Linked DNA regions of Homo sapiens. The protein of the gene in region 2 binds, or shares a complex with, the protein of the main gene of each other region. Each region holds a gene or a part of one and is shown on either strand. Other genes may lie near its edges. The genes, in order: KCTD16 and GABBR2. A codon is read from its position in the direction of its gene.

The links.
Region 1: the proteins of GABBR2 (region 2) and KCTD16 are in contact, whole or in part, in a crystal structure (PDB 6M8R), measured with the Homo sapiens proteins. Residues at the interface, in NP_005449.5 of Homo sapiens: Ile882, Asn883, Ile888 (codon at 2,425), Gln889 (codon at 2,428), Arg891 (codon at 2,434), Leu892 (codon at 2,437), Ser893 (codon at 2,440), Leu894 (codon at 2,443), Gln895 (codon at 2,446), Leu896 (codon at 2,449), Pro897 (codon at 2,452), Ile898 (codon at 2,455), Leu899 (codon at 2,458); in NP_001357415.1 of Homo sapiens: Asn30, Gly32, Gly33, Gln34, Val35, Tyr36, Asp64, Leu65, Ala66, Lys67, Asp68, Ser69, Arg72, Phe74, Gly79, Phe80, Arg83.

Annotation. Positions count from the first base shown.
Region 1 is NC_000005.10:144,201,652-144,205,566, reverse strand, and holds part of KCTD16 (BTB/POZ domain-containing protein KCTD16), read right to left. Parts: intron 177-3,915; exon of another isoform or gene 1-176. UniProt on the Homo sapiens protein: Auxiliary subunit of GABA-B receptors that determine the pharmacology and kinetics of the receptor response. Increases agonist potency and markedly alter the G-protein signaling of the receptors by accelerating onset and promoting desensitization.
Region 2 is NC_000009.12:98,289,258-98,293,172, reverse strand, and holds part of GABBR2 (gamma-aminobutyric acid type B receptor subunit 2 precursor), read left to right. Parts: intron 1-2,423; coding exon 2,424-2,589; 3' UTR 2,590-3,915. UniProt on the Homo sapiens protein: Component of a heterodimeric G-protein coupled receptor for GABA, formed by GABBR1 and GABBR2. Within the heterodimeric GABA receptor, only GABBR1 seems to bind agonists, while GABBR2 mediates coupling to G proteins.

The DNA.
Region 1 (3,915 bases), on a different chromosome or scaffold from region 2:
CCAGGTAGCCACCCCACCTGCCGGCAAGGGCAAACGGACTCCCATGTTCCCAGCCAGGTGGGAGCCGGTGCGAGCCAGAGGCCAACGCAGCGCAGAGATGCCGGCGGGGGGCCCGGGGCTCCGGCTTCTCTGGCGGCGGAGCTGGGTGGTTCCACAGTTCCCAGTGCAGTTCGGATGCTGTTGTTTCAGCAGTGCAGGCAAGAAACCATCCAGGGAAATGACTATTACATCATCTTAAAGGAATATGGCTTGGAGAAAGCGGAGGCAGCTCCGAGTCACGTCCTCCTCGGTGACAGGTTGCCAGGACTGCACGGGGACGCCGCGCTCCGGCGGTGGGCACGCGATTGCCAGGCGCGCGGGGCTTGGGGCGGGGACGCAGTGCTGCGCAGCCACTTCCCTCCCTGTCCTGTCCTGGAGTCTGGAGTTTCCAAGGGCCTTTTCCTTCTTCCTTGTCTTTACCTCCATCACCATCCCACAGCAAATCCCTGCCCCCTACCCAAGAGGTAAGTTGTGAGATAAACACAACTGACTTTTTATTTGAAAAATCTACAGATCTTCCCCCCTCCCCCCTCCTCGTTCACGGAATTCCTTCCTGCTGAAGGGCAAATATCCCTCTAATGCTTGTTTTAAAACACAGACACGCACACCAAATGACCCCAGTGTTCAAACTACACAGTGTTTTTTTTAATCCTTTGATTTAAACCATATTCACTCAAATTCTCCCTTTTTTTCCTTTTCTATTTCATCCGCCTGCCACCACAACCCCTAGCAAATAAATAAATATGAATATATATGTAAATAGGTAGATACATAAACACTCTCTCTGAAATTAATGATGCTCTTTCAAAATGAAGACGTGAAGCACCGGCACCCACAGAAAGCCCACAGTTTACATCCATAAGTCATTATCTTAGCTCACCTGTAAGAAATTGATACCTGCAACCTTTTTCTGGGGTTGTTTCCTTACTGCGCGTCTCTTTGGACGTGCCCCCAGCCCCTCCCAAGTCATCCCAAGAGGACTCTGGTGGAAGGCACTGCTGCTAAAAGACATTTTACTCCTGTTCCAGAGGGCTCCCTTAAGTGCATCATTAGAGTTTCAGGAAGGCATTTCCAGGGCAACCTAATCCACTAACAAAGTGCTTCCAGTTGAGCCTGACAGTCAATAATGGCCCAGCCAACAGCTTACAGTAAGTCGGCCATTTCCCCTTTAAAACACCAGTGTCTTAGGGCTCACATCCCTGATAAGAATATAGTGCTTGGTCAATGAATAATATATGTGAGGCACACGCCATCCCAAACAATTGCTATTTTTAAAAAGTGAAAAACAAAAATGGAGGTGAACTTAGGAATTATATACATTTTATGAGAAACGTGTTTATTGCCAACTCTTGCCCAAAAAATTAGCTTGAAGATACGCTCAACAGTAGGATAAATTAGTTTCTACTTTAACAATCTTTTCTTTCAATAAGCATTGGGTTACTGAACATATTCAGAGCGTTAGCTAACATTCCTACACCTGATTATATTTGACTTTGTTTCGTTAACTAATGCATTAACCTGTTCTGGCCTCAATCATTAGGATTTTAATGCTGGACCAAGCAAGATGTTTGTTATGTGATGCACTTATATCGCCATCTAGTGCCCTAAGCTATCAGTGCAGCTCTGTATCTGGCAACTTAATAGGGCCAAAACATTTAGATTTTCTTTTATTTTTAAGTTTTTATAGTGATCTAAGTTTACTTGGCATGCACTGCTCACCATGACAACAAAATAAATATTTCGTTGACATCAGGTCAAAGACAAAATAAATCTGAATTCAGACCTATTAAGTACTGGTTTTGGTTGTAAAGTAAGCAAATGTTTTATTTCTAAGAGAGTAGGTCAAAACGTCATGACGATAGCTTTGGAGCTCAGGTATGAAAACACTGCAGGGACAGTATGGCAGTAGGTGGAGAAACAGAGTAAGAAAAATTATAATCTTTTAGAGCTAAAACGGACTTGAGGAATGAAAATTAACTATCTCTTCTTAGAGATGCAGAACTGAGGAACAGAGAGGTTCAGCACTTCCTCAGGGTCACACGATTCCAGAGTAACAGGATGGGCTTTAGACCACTGACTCTTCAGGATAACCATCCTCATTTTAACCTTAGATATTCTTGAATAGGAATAGAGAGGCGGCAAGTTTAAGAAACAAGATTTTTTTTGAAACAACAAATTGCAAGACATTTTCTTGAAATTTGAAACAACAAATTTCAAGATTACTAAACATGTTTTTAAAAAGCACACCAAGAATTAATATTAATATTAATACTCTTAAAAAGAGTATTAATATTACTTTAAATTGCAGAGTTAAAAGATTTTATAATATAAAAGAAGAATATTCTGAATTTTTAAAATGAGGAGTTCTGTTCATTGGTCTGGGTTTTATAGGTTAGGTTACTTTTGAGACAAGTAGATTCTTAACCTTTTTTGGAAAATGGACTGCTTAGAGAATCTAATAAAACCTAGGAAATGAATCCACAAGCATAAAAGTTTGCATTCACTGTCAAGGCAGAACCTCTCAGGAAAGGCTGAGTAAAAAGAGGAACAGGTGCGGGGGCCATGTAGTTGATGATTCACATAAGCAGAATTCCTCAAATTTTGACTATGAAACTTCTTTTTGAAGTGAGATTACACATACATTCACAGAGACACACTCTGAGAATTGAAAAATGGAAAACATTCACCAGACAACCTTAATCTTGCAACCCATGATTTGATCATACCACCTGAAACATTTTGAATTGGTATTTTTCATAAACACTGTAAATATCCTGTTTTGCACAATTATATTGCATCATATTGTTAATTGTTGTGTGCTAAAACAGTTTGTTTATTATAGTAAGCAGTTAAAAATAAACACTTGCTTTGCTAACTCTATTTGGGCATATCTACTTTTTAATCTAAATGGAACCTCAGAAAAGCAAGATGGTCTAGGCCTCCCTCACCTTCTGAGAGATCAGGGGTTTGGTTCAAGATTGGCCTGAAGCCCATTCATGTTGGGGTTCATAGACCTCAGGTTAACATCCCCAGATCTGTACTCCTTCTTGTTTCTTTAGTCTCAGGGATGAAAACGAATGAGAGGTGAGATTAAAAAGATAAAAGACTTGAAGGAAATAAAGCAATACACTCTACAAAGAGATTTAAATAGTGCTAGAGTAAGCGAATGTCTCAGGGAAGTTGTCGGTAAGCCCGGCTGTTTGGTGCCTTAACAAGAGGCAAGAAGCCAAGTCTAGGCTGTAAGTGTATTCCTAGCCTTCGTGTCAGCAAATAACACCGCTAGTGTTATTATTCTCTCTTGGCAGCTCTCCGCTGAAACACTGTGGGATGGCACTCCCGGACTGAAGGCTGAACAGCATACGGCAACAGATTTCTCTTAGAGGAAGAGCAAGGAAGAATGCTCCATCCTGTTCTTTGTAATATTCAAGCATATAGCAAATCAAGACGTATGTTAGGTAAATTGTGAAATTGATAAAATATGTTTTCGCCTCTGTTTCCTGCTTTCACATGCACAGCCAAATATTGAAGGGTATATTCTCAAAAGGACTATTTTAATTTTGAAATAATGTGATCACTCTCTACATTCTCACTCCTAACACATCCTTAAGTTTTCTCTGCCCTCAAGCAGAGATAGCTTTCATGCTGACAGCCTTCGCTATCAGGGAGGAAACAGACCTCATAAACTTACTTATGCTAAGATGCTGCACACTCATCGTGTTATGTGCTCCCAAGGATTCCTGCATTATCACCATTATCTTAATAGCTGCTGTTTATGGAGGGATGACCATCAAGTCCTCACCACAGTCAGTCGTTATCCCTCTTCCAGTTCTGCCTGGCTGGCTGTGTGACTTTGAACAGGAGACTCATGTCTCTGAG
Region 2 (3,915 bases):
AATTTTAGGCCTTCCCATCTTATAGCACATTGGAAGCAGAAGCTGGAAATACAAACTTTGAAACTTGGCCTCTGGAAGTGACAAGCAATGAGGAACCAGCAAAAGCAGCCAAATCACCAATTGCAGCATCATTTGGGGCTCTTTAGTATTAGAGCTAAGGGCCTGTCAACCCAACTAGCTCCAAGGCCTGGCCAGCTTACAGTCCAGGACAGTGAGTGAGAGTTACATGGAATTTGTCAGCAGTTTGCCTAGCAGTTGCCTCCAGTAGAGTGTAAGCACCTTGAGAGTAAGTTATGAGTCCTTCATGTGTCCCCTGCACCGAACACAGGTTCTGCCAGTGAATAGGTTCTTGACAAGCATTTGTTGAATGAATGAAAGGTGAACAGGATCCTAACAGACAGAAGAATGCTCTGACAACCACAGGACCCACCTTGCCTAGGCAGATAGCCCTGCCCTGGGTGCTTGGACAGGACACCCTTTTCCCAGGTCACAGTTTATTCTTCCCTTTTTGTCCTGGACTTCTTGCCAGCATGATCTTGCCTTAAGACACAGACTTCAGCTGACATTATACAGGTCCAACTTTAACTTCAGAATGAGATCTCCAACACTGTAGTTCCATGCACACCTGTGAGGTGTCTCTTGGGAGGAATCTTTCTGGAAAGTGTGGGCAGCACTTCGTCTGTACCCATCTATCTCAGAACCCACCAGTGACCTAAATGAACCCCAAGGGCACACCCAGTTGGGATAAGGCTGCCCCCATGAGTTGATTCGCCTCCACCACAAAACAATGTGGTTGAACAGAAGCAGCAAGAATTCCAGCTTCCCCAGTTCTGGTTTTGTTTCCATGGGGAAGTTACCTGAACTCTGTACTCTTCCCTCTTCTTTATAATGGGAATAGCAGTATTTCTTTTGCCTATTGGGTGTCTGTTAAGCTCTGGGGTTTTTGTTTTTCGCTTTTTTGCACGTGAGTGGCCAGGCACTGGGAACACAAGAAGGCATAAGAACTCAGTCCCTTCTCTCAAGGAATGCGGTGTGAAAGTTGCACCCATGGAGAACTGTGCAAGAATGCAGCTGAGCCGAGCAGAGGAGCAGTCACCTGGGCACATTTGCCGCAAGCAGCCTTTTCAACAAAGTGACATGACAGTCATTAAGACCAGAAGGGTGTGGCAATGAGAAGGGAGTCAGAGGGCAGCTCCCTTTTCCCTTGCTGCTCCTCCATCACGTGCTAACCCACACCCAGCTCCATCTTGCCTCCAGCTTTTTCTGGCTTCATTTCTGAGTATTTACCTAGGGTTCTGCTTAGCAGAGGAAGGGTTCTCCTAGCAGAGAGTGAGCACAAACAAGGTGATATTTAAACTGGATCTTGAAGGAGACACAGTTCATCATGTCAGGAAGCAGAGAAAGAGTCTTCCAGACAGGGAAACAGCAGAAGAGCACCCAGGAGCAGGGTTTCCAGGGAAACTGGCTGCCAGAGGGCAGGGCTTACAGGTGGAAAGGATGGAAGATTCACCTGGAAAATTCTGATCCAAAGATGGAACTTAGGGGGCCCCAAATATCACATCAGTGTCCCTTTTTTTCCCTTCCTTGGCTTCCTAGTGTTGGAAAGATAACACTAGTTACCAAAGAAGCTGGAAGAGCCTGTGGGAATTGGCCCAGCAAGAAGAGATGCGGTCCTGGGCAAAGCAGAGGCAGACGGGAGAGAGGAAGGATGGAGCAGGCGAGAAGTCTTTCAGGGATGAAACTGAAAGCCCTGTGGAGGTTTGCAAGAGTAGAGAATGCGAACTATCTGGTTTGCAGCAAAGCCCTGATAGAAAGGCAAAGCTTTGTCCTTAGTAATACAGACAGTCCCCAACTTACCATTTTTCAAATTTACAATGGTGTGAAAGTGATACACATTCAGTACAGTATTCAGTAAATTGCATGAGATATTTAACACTTTTTTATAAAATAGGCCTTGTGTTAGATGATATGGCCCAACTGTAAGTGTTCTGAGCACATTTAAGGTAGGCGAGGCTCAGCTAGGATATTTGGTAGGTTAGGTGGATTAAATGCATTTTTCAACTTACGATATTTTCAACTTACAATGGGTTTATGGGAATGTAACCCCATCGTAAGTCAAGGAGCATCTTTTCTGCTAGGGTATTTATAATAACCACCAAATCCTGGCCCAAAGCTCGAGAAAATTCATCTCCCTTGTTTATTCAAGTCTCCCTGGTCATTCCCAGGGCAGTAGCTGGTACATATGGGCCCTCATTAAATACCTGCTGGATTGCTGAATGGTTAGATGATTGGATGGACAGATCTTGGATTCAGAGAAAAATATGCTCCTGTCATCAGCTTTTTTAGCCAAAGCAAGTCCAAGGAACTTTCTGGTAAGCGCCCAGCTACCCTTCACTAACACTCCTCCCTCTCCTTCTCTTCAGCATCCAGCGTCGGCTGTCCCTCCAGCTCCCCATCCTCCACCACGCCTACCTCCCATCCATCGGAGGCGTGGACGCCAGCTGTGTCAGCCCCTGCGTCAGCCCCACCGCCAGCCCCCGCCACAGACATGTGCCACCCTCCTTCCGAGTCATGGTCTCGGGCCTGTAAGGGTGGGAGGCCTGGGCCCGGGGCCTCCCCCGTGACAGAACCACACTGGGCAGAGGGGTCTGCTGCAGAAACACTGTCGGCTCTGGCTGCGGAGAAGCTGGGCACCATGGCTGGCCTCTCAGGACCACTCGGATGGCACTCAGGTGGACAGGACGGGGCAGGGGGAGACTTGGCACCTGACCTCGAGCCTTATTTGTGAAGTCCTTATTTCTTCACAAAGAAGAGGAACGGAAATGGGACGTCTTCCTTAACATCTGCAAACAAGGAGGCGCTGGGATATCAAACTTGCAAAAAAAAAAAAAAAAAAAAAAAAACAAAAAAACTAGACAAGGAGAGAGGCACTAGAACTCCAGCTGGAAGTCACGGAGTGGCTCGAGCAGCCTTGGGAAGAGGCAAGGAGCTTCTGAAGAAACTGCCTCTGCACACACATCACTGGCTGTGACCCCTCAGGCTAGCCCTTCTCCACTCTGGGGGAGGAGGTGGGAAGGGCCACCAGGCCCCCAGCTGCCAGGCCAGCTGACCCCAGCCTTCCTGGAACAGGGAGTCTGCAGGAGCGCAGACAGGCACAGCCCTGGAGCAGGCAGGCCGAGGGCTGCGGCACTGGAGCAGGCTGACTTACATGCTCCACATGGGACCTGTGTCACCCAATGAGATGTTTGTTACTCTGGTAAATGCCACACGTTAACACAATAACACCCATTCCTGGGACCGTGGGGATTTAGGGCACGTCACTGCAGACACGCTCTGCAGCATTCACCGACAGTCTGTCATGCACCCACCACGTTGGCCATGTCCTTGTGTTCCTATCGGATGCTCCCAGTAACCAGGGGGACCACCCGAGCTAATCATGGAATGTCTGTTCCCAGCAAACACGATAAAGAAAGATTGTGCACTTTAACCTCTCTCATCAGGGCCCAAGGGCTGGCTGGGATTTTTTTTTTTTTTTTCCCACTAACTTTGTTTCTGACCAAAGTGAATTGGAGGCACTCTGCTAAAAGACATCCCCGTAGACATAGGGGAGAGAGTTGCTGGCTGAGGGCTTCCCTTGGCTTCCAGAAGGCAGCCTTCCATCCAGACAAGCCAGTGAGCTCTCCCCTTGGGATCACTGGGGTGATCAGTCAGCAGATTGATTCTCATTCATAAGATCATTCCTCCCTTTAAATTGAGCCCCTAAGAGCACTGGCCTGGGAGTCAGACAGACCTGGGTTCAAGTCCTCAGTCCCCTGCCCACTCCCTACGTGACTTTGATCAGGTCACTAGTGTCTCTCTGAGCCTCAGTTTCCCCTCTGTAACTTGGGGTTGAACTAAAACACCTGTCCTGCCTAC